2 linked regions of the Homo sapiens genome follow. The protein of the gene in region 1 purifies or fractionates together with the protein of each later gene. This does not show direct contact. Each region holds a gene or a part of one and is shown on either strand. Other genes may lie near its edges.

Region 1 (4,968 bases):
AAGGACACACCTCTTGGATCTCTGGCAGCAGCTGCCATGCTCCAAAATCCACCACCACGTTTGTGTTGAGGCAATGCCACTCCCAGGCTGCTCCTAGCTAGTGACTGAGACGAGCATGGCACTCGGGCAGGCACGCTTCTGGGAGATGCAGCCCCTCTGATGGGTAAGTGGGCTCAGGAATGCCCTGGTGGCTGTGCCCAGCTTTCCTCGACAGCAGCCAAGACACTCCAGCAGACAGATGCTCCAACAGACTGACATACTCCAGCAGACTGAGATGCTCCAACAGACTGACATACTCCAGCAGACAGATGCTCCAACAGACTGACATACTCCAGCAGACTGAGATGCTCCAACAGACTGACATACTCCAGCAGACTGAGATGCTCCAACAGACTGACATACTCCAGCAGACTGAGATGCTCCAACAGACTGACATACTCCAGCAGACTGAGATGCTCCAATAGACCTACTCCAGCAGACTGAGATGCTCCAATAGACTGACATACTCCAGCAGACTGAGATGCTCCAATAGACTGACATACTCCAGCAGACTGAGATGCTCCAATAGACTGACATACTCCAGCAGACTGAGATGCTCCAATAGACAAATACTCCAGCAGAATGAGATGCTCCAATAGACAAATACTCCAGCAGACTGAGATGCTCCAATAGACTGACATACTCCAGCAGACTGAGATGCTCCAACACACTGGCATACTCCAGCAGACTGAGATTCTCCAATAGACAAATACTCCAGCAGACTGAGATGCTCCAACAGACTGGCATACTCCAGCAGACTGAGATGCTCCAATAGACTGCCACACTCCAGCAGACTGAGATGCTCCAATAGACAAATACTCCAGCAGACTGAGATGCCAAAAAGCAAAGTACACTGAGGTGCTCCAGCAGGCTAAGATGCTCCCATGGGCTGAGATGCTCCAGTGGGCTGAGACGCTCCTTCGGGCTGGGATGCTCCCGTGGGCTGAGATACTCCTGTGGGCTGAGATGCTCCTTTGAGTTGGGATGCTCCCGTGGGCTGAGATACTCCTGTGGGCTGAGATACTCCCTTGGGCTGGGATGCTCCAGTGGGCTGAGATGCTCCTTTGGGCTGGGATGCTCCCATGGGCTGAGGTACTCCTGTGGGCTGAGATGCTCCTTTGAGTTGGGATGCTCCCGTGGCCTGAGATACTCCTGTGGGCTGAGATACTCCCTTGGGCTGGGATGCTCCCATGGGCTGAGATGCTCTTGAGGGCTGGGATGCTCCCTTGGGCTGAGATGCTTCCAGGGGCTGAGATACTCCTATGGGCCGTGATGCTCTTTCGGGCTGATATGTTCCTTCCCCCACTCCTTCATCGTGGGCTAACGCTCTCCCTTGTCATTTTCTCCCACAGATGTTTCCCCTGACAAACGTCCTGCCCACCAATCCCATCTCGGCAGAGCTGAACTGTGGCAGAGGTGCAGGCTGGCAGGAATGGATGTGCCCTGGGCTGCTGCAAGCTCCTGTCCCCAATCACATCCATTCATGCAGCCCAACTGCCTCCAGGGGCCTCAGAGGGCAGCTCTCATCACCACTTCCGGCCACTGCAAAAGCTGCCTGGTGAGTGTTTTATGATGCTGGGGAAGGTTGAGAAAGCAGCTGTACTTTTCTGCATGTTGTTGGGGAAATCACATGCCAGAGAAGTATTGTGGGATGTGGGAATAAGGGAAAAAGGATTTGGGGACACAGCCTCCTGGGCACATGGGGTCTCTGGCGTTCTCCCGGGCTGTTCCCATCTTCAGAGTGGCCCTCGCACCCTACCCCCCTACCACTTCCTCGAGGCAGCCATCCCCCAACACTGTCCTCCTGGCTCCCGCTTTCTGCACGGCCCCTTGGCAATCCTGTCCATGTCCTGTGGCTTCAAAACTCAACTGCACGGACATGAACCACCTTCTCCTGACGGACCCCAGAACCTGCTGACAACCTGAGCCCCCGAGCCCCTTAGCCGCAGCACCCCAGAGGGCCCGGCCTCCCTCTACCACCCCTGCTTCACTGTCTCTGAGGGACGGACCCTCCTCCAGGTGACTTGTACTGGCAGCAGGGACAACCTTGACCCTCAGATGCCGTCACTTTCTCTCTTGTGTGTGTCCCTTCCTTTCTACACCAACGCCAGAACCCAGGGCCTCATCCTGAACCCCTATCCCAGGGCAGCCACTCCTGAGCCTCCTGTTCCCAGGCACATGACACTGACAGTCGTTTCCCACAGGCTCCCATTCTCCCCATGCAGCCCTTCCCCAAGGCTCCCCACGTGGCCTCCGCCCTCCCCGCCTCCAGGCTCTCCACGGGCCCCGCCCTCTCCCCAAGCACGCGGCCCCCACCCTCTCCTGGCCAGGCCATACTTCACCCGCCCGGCCCCTCTCTCCTGTCCCGGCACAGACACCTCACACTGGCCTTGGTTCCCTGACAAATGGAGTGGAAGTTCCGAGGCATGGGTGCAGCCGGCACTCCTGGATCCCGGCCTCCCCTCCAGCCTTCTCTCTCTGTTCTCCCCTCAGACCTAAAGGCGAGTGCTGGACGCCCCGCAGGAGCCCCACTAAAGGGCCCCAGTAACGGAGGCCCGCCCGGCTCCGCGGTCCTGGGGGACAGCAGCCTCCTGGGGGAGCAGCTTCGAGTGTAGGCCCTGCCCAGCGCCCCGCGGCGAGTGGGCGCCCGGCGGGCGTGTGGGTGGAGACGTGAAACCCCGTCCCTCCTTCAGCCTCAGGGCCACTCAGGGAGTGGGCATCTCTTGGGATCCTGGGAGACCCACGTACTTAAGAAGAGCATTTTTTGGGAACTTGGCCCCTGCTCGCAGGCCAGTGATCCGCGTTCCGGTCTGTCCCGGTGCTGGAGACAAAGGGGCCTCATCTGTGCCGTGCTGGCTTCTCCGGGCACAGGAGGCCCGGCCCCTTCCTAAGGGATTTTCACCTCAGGCCGCCTTCCTCTGTAACCTGGACGCCATGTGCATCCCCTGGAGCCGCCCCTCTATCGGGTGCCCTCCTCAGTCCCCTGCCACCACCACCCTCACCAACCTCTACCCCATTCTTCCAGGCCTCACCCCTCTGCCTGAGGCCTGCTTGCTCCCGCTACCTGCCCGCAGGGGTCTCGGCCTCTCTCCCGGTGGCCTCTTGGGGTGCCAGCTGGAGGGTGGGTCTGGCTCCAGCGCCCCATTGACCCTCCTCCTTCCATTGCCCCTCTCTGTAGCCGCCCCCTGTTGTGCCCGACCCGTGCCTGTGGGGCTGACCGAGGAGTGAGGTGCCGCCCCACACTGGGGTCACCCACCTATGAGCGGATCCAGGGGCACTCTGCCGAGGAGAGGGACCTCCAAGTCCTGGCACATGAGCTCCGCGCCCCCGGTTGTGGGAGGGAATATCTGAGATTCTTTCTGCAAGGCAAATTCAAAGGGGAGGAAACATAATTTTTTTGCAGAATCACAAGGATGGACCACATTTTAAAGAAACTTAAAAAAAAAAAAAAGGCTTAGTTTGAATGTGGAACCCTTAACACCTAAAGAACTTTCCTTTAGTCAGCAGAAAGGGATTTTAATTGTGATTCCACTTCCCAAAATGACAGGGAAAGCAGAAATAGTTTGCAGAGCAGCCTTCCGATCGTTTCCTCATCCATGAGAGCAAGATCTTGCTCGCCTGGCAGCCCCACGCGCCCTCACCTTGCACTTAGGACAGATGAAGCCACTCATGTTCTCCACCACCCCGATGATGGGCAGCTTCACCTTGCGGCAGAAGTTGATTTCTTTCCGGACATCCTGGAGTGACACCTCCTACGAAGGTGAAAAGACCAGTGATTCCAGCATCAAAGTGCGAGAAAGGGAATGTCTGTGCAACCGAGGGGATGGCTGCAATGCAGTGGATCTGCGATCATAAAGCCTTAGAGGTTTCTGCCCTGATAGGGTTTGGCTCTGTGTCCCCATCCAAATCTCAGCTCGAACTGTAATCCCCATCATCCCTACATCCCTACAGGAACAGGCAGTTCCTGGTGGGAGGTGATTGGATCATGGGGGCAGTTTCCCCCATGCTGGTCTCGATAGTGAGTTTTCACGAGATCTGATGGTTTTGTAAGTGTTTGACAGTTCCTCCTACACACTCTCTCTCTCACTGCTGCCACTGTGTAACATGTGCCTGCTTTGCCTTCCACCATGATTGTTAAGTTTCCTGGGGCCTTCCCAGCCATGCAGAACTGTGAATCAATGAAACCTCTTTCCCTTATAGGTTACCCAGTCTCAGGCAGTTCTTTACAGCAGTGTGAAAATGAACTAATGTATGCCCTCTGCCAAATCCATATTTATTTAGTACCTACTAGTGCTAAGCCCTGTTTGTTCGAGGTGCTATTTACTTCCCACACAGCCAAATAGCAAGAAATCAACCTAAAAGAAAATGACTTTTTTTTTTAGAGACAGGATCTCACTGCTGCCCAGTCTGGAGTGCAGTGGCATAATCATTGCTCACTGCAGCCTTGACCTCCTGGGCTCAGGCAATCCTCCTGCCTCAGCCTCCAGAGTAGCTGGGACTACAGGCATGTGCTACTCTGCCTGGCTAACTTTTTAATTTTTTATAGAGATGGTTGTTGCCCAGACTGGTCTTAAGCTTCTGGTGTGAAGTGATCCTCCTGCCTCGGCCTCCCAGAGTGTTAGGGTTAGAGGCGTGAGCCACTGTGCCTATCTGAAAATGACCTTTTAACGCATCTACATGCTCCATGTCCCTATACTATACTATATTAAGCCAGTGTGTGCACTGTTTTCTAGACCAGAGCTTGGCAAACCCCAGCCTGGGGGCTGAATCTGGCTGGTTTTATAAATAAAGTTCCTCCGGAACCAGCCATGCCCGTCCCTCTAGGCACCGTCTGTGGCTGCTTCATGCCACAGTGGCACGGCTAAGGGGCTGGGACAGGGACCGTGGGGTCCGCAACGCCTACTTCCTATCTGGCCCTTTACAGAAAAG
Region 2 (4,886 bases), on another chromosome or scaffold:
CTATTTGGTCTAATTGGCAAAGGATTCTGTGGAATAGCAGAATTCTAACTTTGCAGCCGGGCGCGGTGGCTCACGCCGGTAACCCCAGCACTTTGGGAGGCTGAGGCGGGCGGATCATGATGTCAAGAGATCGAGACCATCCTGGCCAACATGGTGAAACCCCGTCTCTACTAAAAATACAAAAAAATTAGCTGGGCATGGTGGCACGCCCTGTAGTGCCAGCTACTCGGGAGGCTGAGGCAGGAGAATCACTTGAACCTGGGAGGTGGAGGTTGCAGTGAGCCGAGATTGCGCCCCTGCACTCCAGCCTGGGGAGAGAGTGAGACTCTGACTCAAAAAAATAAAATAAAAATAAAAATAAAAATTCTAACTTTGCTGGTTTCCTAACCCCCAAATTCAGATGAATTTGAATTCTGAAATACAGTAACAGGAATTATCAGCCTGTCTGATTCTAAATTTTGTTGGATCTTCCTCCCAGGACCGTGGACAGCCCAGCCAGCTGTAAAGGCCTCTAAAAAGATCTGGAACAGATCCCCAAGAGGTATCTCACCAAATGAGTCCATTCCACTACAATGGCCAGAATCTTCAGTTTTACACCCTTGCTCATGCCCACCGCTCACCCGGAGTCCAGACCCAAGCACCATGCTGCGTAGTTCCTAATACGGCAAAACTATCCAGCATTTTTGGTGAAATTGGCTGGAATGCTTCACTTAGTCCGTTTTTCACTGTTAGCAGGAGAACCACCCTAGTATCTTTCATAGAACAGATCCGAATGACAAACACCATCGTGCCCTCGGAGGGCTGAGCTTGTGTTACTGGGTCTGGTCCTACAAACCCTGAAAATCCTGAATCTCTCAAGCAAAGAGATTCCCCAGGGCCAGCTCTGGCCCTTAACAGGCACCCCTTAACGCCAAGCTGCGAATCTGGCTAGGACCTCTATATTTTAGCCAAGAACACCTTGAAATGTACAGTCCTACCAAAGGAACTAATACAAATCCAGAAGCACAAGGCTAAAGAAAAAAAAAAAAAAAACCCCAATGCCCATTGTTGAAAGCCAATTGCGGGGTGAGTGGGGTGATAAGGCTAGCCCACAGCGGATTTAGGCGACGTGGGGAGATGCCAAAGTGAATACACGGTGACTTCTAAATCTAGACGTCTGGAAGGGGCCATGAGAGCCAGACAACTGGGCCCGAACCCCGCCCGGGAGCCAGGGTTTGCAAGGGGCTAAACCGGCTGGGGAGCCTCCCTCTCGCGGGTCCAGCCTCGGCGGCCCGGGACGCCGGTAGGCGGGGCCTGAGCCTCGCCCCGCCCCCGCTGCCCGCCATTCGGGTCACCTGACCCACCCGCGGCTCACGTGATCCGTCCCCAGCGCCGCCATTTTGGAGCTCCGGATGAGGAGGGGGAAACCGGGGGAAAAGAGGGAAAAGAGCCGGGAGAGAGGTGGGCAAGGACGAGGGCGAGGGCACGGCCGGGTCCTGGCTGGCCAAACGAGGCTCGCGGAAGCAGCAGCCGCCGCCTGACCGCAGGTACCGCGCCCCGGGGCCGCCCCTCCGCCCGCTGTTAGCGCCGCCGCCGGCCATGTGCATCCTCCCCTCAGGCCTCTGCCGGCGCTCGCTTCCTCCTCAGCCGGCCGACCCCCGCCCGGTGCTAGCCACAAGCCCCAAGTTCCGTGTCCCGGTTCTGTCTTCTGTGCAGCAAGGCCTGCGGAGACTCTGGGCTTGCCCTGCAGCTGGGGGTGGGGGGAACTTGCTGCTCCCTGCATACTGTCACCAGCCCGGCCCGCCCGCAGGCGTTGCTTCCTTCTCCAGGCGTTGCTTCTTTCTGCAAATGTGAGATCGCTTAGGCCAGCCGGGATGGACCCAGCCACGATGTTCTCACAGCATCTTTTGATTAATTTTCTAAGCTCCCTCATTCCCGACCCATCACCTCAGTCCTTTAGCCAGTGCGTGGTGTAGAAAAAGCTACTACAGAAACGCAGCCCTGGTCTTCTGCATTTATTACCATCCTCTGGAGATAGAATGATGTCTCCAGAGATCACGGAGACCATCAGGGAAAGTTCCCACCTCTTAAGACCTGGGGGCATCGGAATGAATGGTTTGTGTAGAAGGCCGGGATGATTAATAAGGTGGCGGCCACTTTCCCAACCCCAAGGCGGTATTTTTAAGTTTCTGCAGTGGGCTGTAATTTGCTATCAGTCTGCATCGCTCTTCTCAGGCAATTACTGGATTTATCACCTCTTTGAGTTTGCACTTTCTCCAGTACTCCCCTCTCACTCAGAGTATGGGTTGCATTATTGATTAAAAGAAAGCCTGGCCCTTCATTCCTTTACCTCACTAACTCGTTGAAAATTAACTTCAGGGGAGCCCTAAAGATGTTTTTTCTGCCCTGGCAGTGAGCTATTTTACTTAACCGTAATCGATAAGGTAGTTGCATTCTAGGTGAAACGAATAAGCATTTTTTTATCTTTTAGATTTATTCCAGCCAGTATAAGAAACAGTGGCAAAGAAATGTAGGACCAGAGTAGGAAACTGCGTTAGAAGATATATAGGTCACACCACTGTGTCATATCTTTTTATGCTGTTTTTCTGCCTATTGTGCTTGGTTGCAGAATCACTCGTTAGATTGTATTTTTAGTTTAGATTAAAATAGCAATGTGCAATTTATTGTTCCATTCTCATTAGAAAATGTTGTCAGTAAAACCAATAGTGTTGAGTCCAGTACCTAAATTCTGAGGTAAAACAAAATACACAATTATTGGGAGAAGTTTCCAGAGCTATTTTTTCCTAACTTCTGCAAAATCCTCAAGTCGGCTTGTTAGATAAATTATTTAAATTTGCATTACGTAATAGGGTTGCATGAACATTCCTCTGAATTTCTTTTTACATGGAATATTGAGAAATTTTTCACTGCCAAAAAAAAAATCATTACTTTGTTTCACCAAGAAAGAGAAATGTTTTGATACTATATACTTTCGTTCTTGGCCACAGCTGGATTTTGAAGATTGATCCAAGGGACTGTATTAATTTCAGGAATTGATTTGAAAGACACTGGCTCTGCCACTTAACAGCCATGTAACCTTGGGTAAGTCACTTAAACCACACTGAGTGTTTCCTTATTTATAAGACTGTATAACACCCACCTAGCCTGTCCTAAAGAGTTATGAGGATCAGATACCACTAACATGTTTGATAGAGCCTAGCTGTAAGGAGCTGTTACTCTTTTCAGTATTGATATTTTGTACATTTTTATTCTCATTGAGAATTAAGATGAAAATTGGTGTATTAGAGAAAGCATGGTTTTAGAGTGAGATTGGCCTGGATTCCTGTTCTTAAACCAGTTACCACTTTGTGTCTGTGAGTCTCAGGTTTCTCATCTGCAAAAAAAAAAAAAATACACAAAATTTGAATATTACACAAAATCTACAGAGGCATTACTCCCTAGACTTGCACCTCATGGGCAAGGATTTCCTCAGTCATTTTTGTAGTCCCCAGCATTCTGGTTGGCACATTATAGGTGCTCAATAAATGACAGTAAATCTGAATATTGGTTAATGTTAGTTAGACCTTATGTCTTCATTGCAGCTGCCAAATTAGAATATTCTCTCAGGCTATGTGCCAACTAAGAAACTCTAGACTATGAAACTCCATATACTTGTGATATTTATACTCATTTTTTTCTTAGTGGTAATTAATAATTACCTTGGGCTCAGAAGATTTTAAATCAAATAAATTGTAGCCAATATAGTGAGGTAAATCTATAAATAATGTGTAAGCAGTTTCCAGGTAACTTTATAGACAGTTTATAATTCAGGGACCTGAAAGTTCATCTAGCTTCACCCTCTTGTTTTACATCTGAGCAATCTAAAACTCACAGAGACAGTGACTTGCCTAAGGTCACACAGCTAATTGAGGGCACTTTAGGGGAGGGACCCTTGAGCTTATGTCCCCTGCCTTCTTTTGGCTGGAGCAAAATAAATTTGTCATATTTTAGAATTACAATAATCTGGAAGAATGGGGAATTTATTGGCCATTACTTTTATAGCACAATTTTTTTTTTTTTCCCATTTTGGAAAAAACAAATTCTTGTTCTGAAAGAGAAGGTTCTTTTGTATCATATTGTACTTTTCTTCATATAAACACAGAAAATTACAGCCTTTTCTCCAGGCCCACATGAATTGTTCAACTTGATTTTACTCATGATGACCATACTACTGTAATTATAAAGAACTAATTAGATACCCAAATAACCAAATAGCAAATTATAAGGAAATAAAGACAACTGAAATAATTTGGCTCCTAACTTTTTGTGAGAAAGATATTAATTAGAAGCATTTGCCTGTGGAATACTGTTGTCAAGGAAAGATTTGAGAGAGTTGGTGGAAAGGGTTATAGAACTTTTCTGGTTTGGGATACAACTTTTGTTTATTACTTATTTATTGGTAACAATTTAATATATTTAATGTTGTTATGTCTAAACATTACAAACAAGAAATCTCCTGTTTTGCTAATGCCTGTCGTCTTCTTTCCTCCTGGTGAACTTTCCTATTCAGCCATATCGATCTTTTCACTCACCCCCAGATAGCATGCTTATTCTTACTTCTAAAAATATAGTCATGTCATGGCTGCTTTTCTGGTCACTGCTACCCTTGTGTCAACTTGTATCAGCAGTATTCCAAGGAAGCAAATGGCACGTTGAAATGAGGATAATTCAAGGAAGGTATATTTACAAAGATATTAGTAATAAAGGTGTTGGACTTCAATAAGCAAACCACAGCATAATGCAGTTATCTGGAGCTAGCAGCATTAGGAGAGGGAGAGGCATCAGAATCAGAAGAAGGGTCTTGGAGAGCAGCCTACCTGGAAAGAAATAGCCTTCTATTGAGGAAC

What was found.
Region 2: the proteins of NUBP1 (region 1) and ZNF507 purify together in Homo sapiens (affinity purification with mass spectrometry; one large-scale study listed by BioGRID and IntAct). This does not show direct contact.

What each region holds. Positions count from the first base shown.
Region 1 is NC_000016.10:10,760,187-10,765,154, reverse strand, and holds part of NUBP1 (cytosolic Fe-S cluster assembly factor NUBP1), read right to left. Parts: intron 4,244-4,968; exon of another isoform or gene 3,792-4,243; coding exon 3,681-3,791; exon of another isoform or gene 3,587-3,680; intron 3,399-3,586; coding exon 3,296-3,398; coding exon of another isoform or gene 3,292-3,295; intron 2,639-3,291; exon of another isoform or gene 1-2,638. UniProt on the Homo sapiens protein: Component of the cytosolic iron-sulfur (Fe/S) protein assembly (CIA) machinery. Required for maturation of extramitochondrial Fe-S proteins.
Region 2 is NC_000019.10:32,344,258-32,349,143, forward strand, and holds the start of ZNF507 (zinc finger protein 507), read left to right. Parts: upstream 1-1,352; 5' UTR 1,353-1,526; intron 1,527-2,987; 5' UTR 2,988-3,081; intron 3,082-3,227; exon of another isoform or gene 3,228-3,373; intron 3,374-4,856; exon of another isoform or gene 4,857-4,886. UniProt on the Homo sapiens protein: May be involved in transcriptional regulation.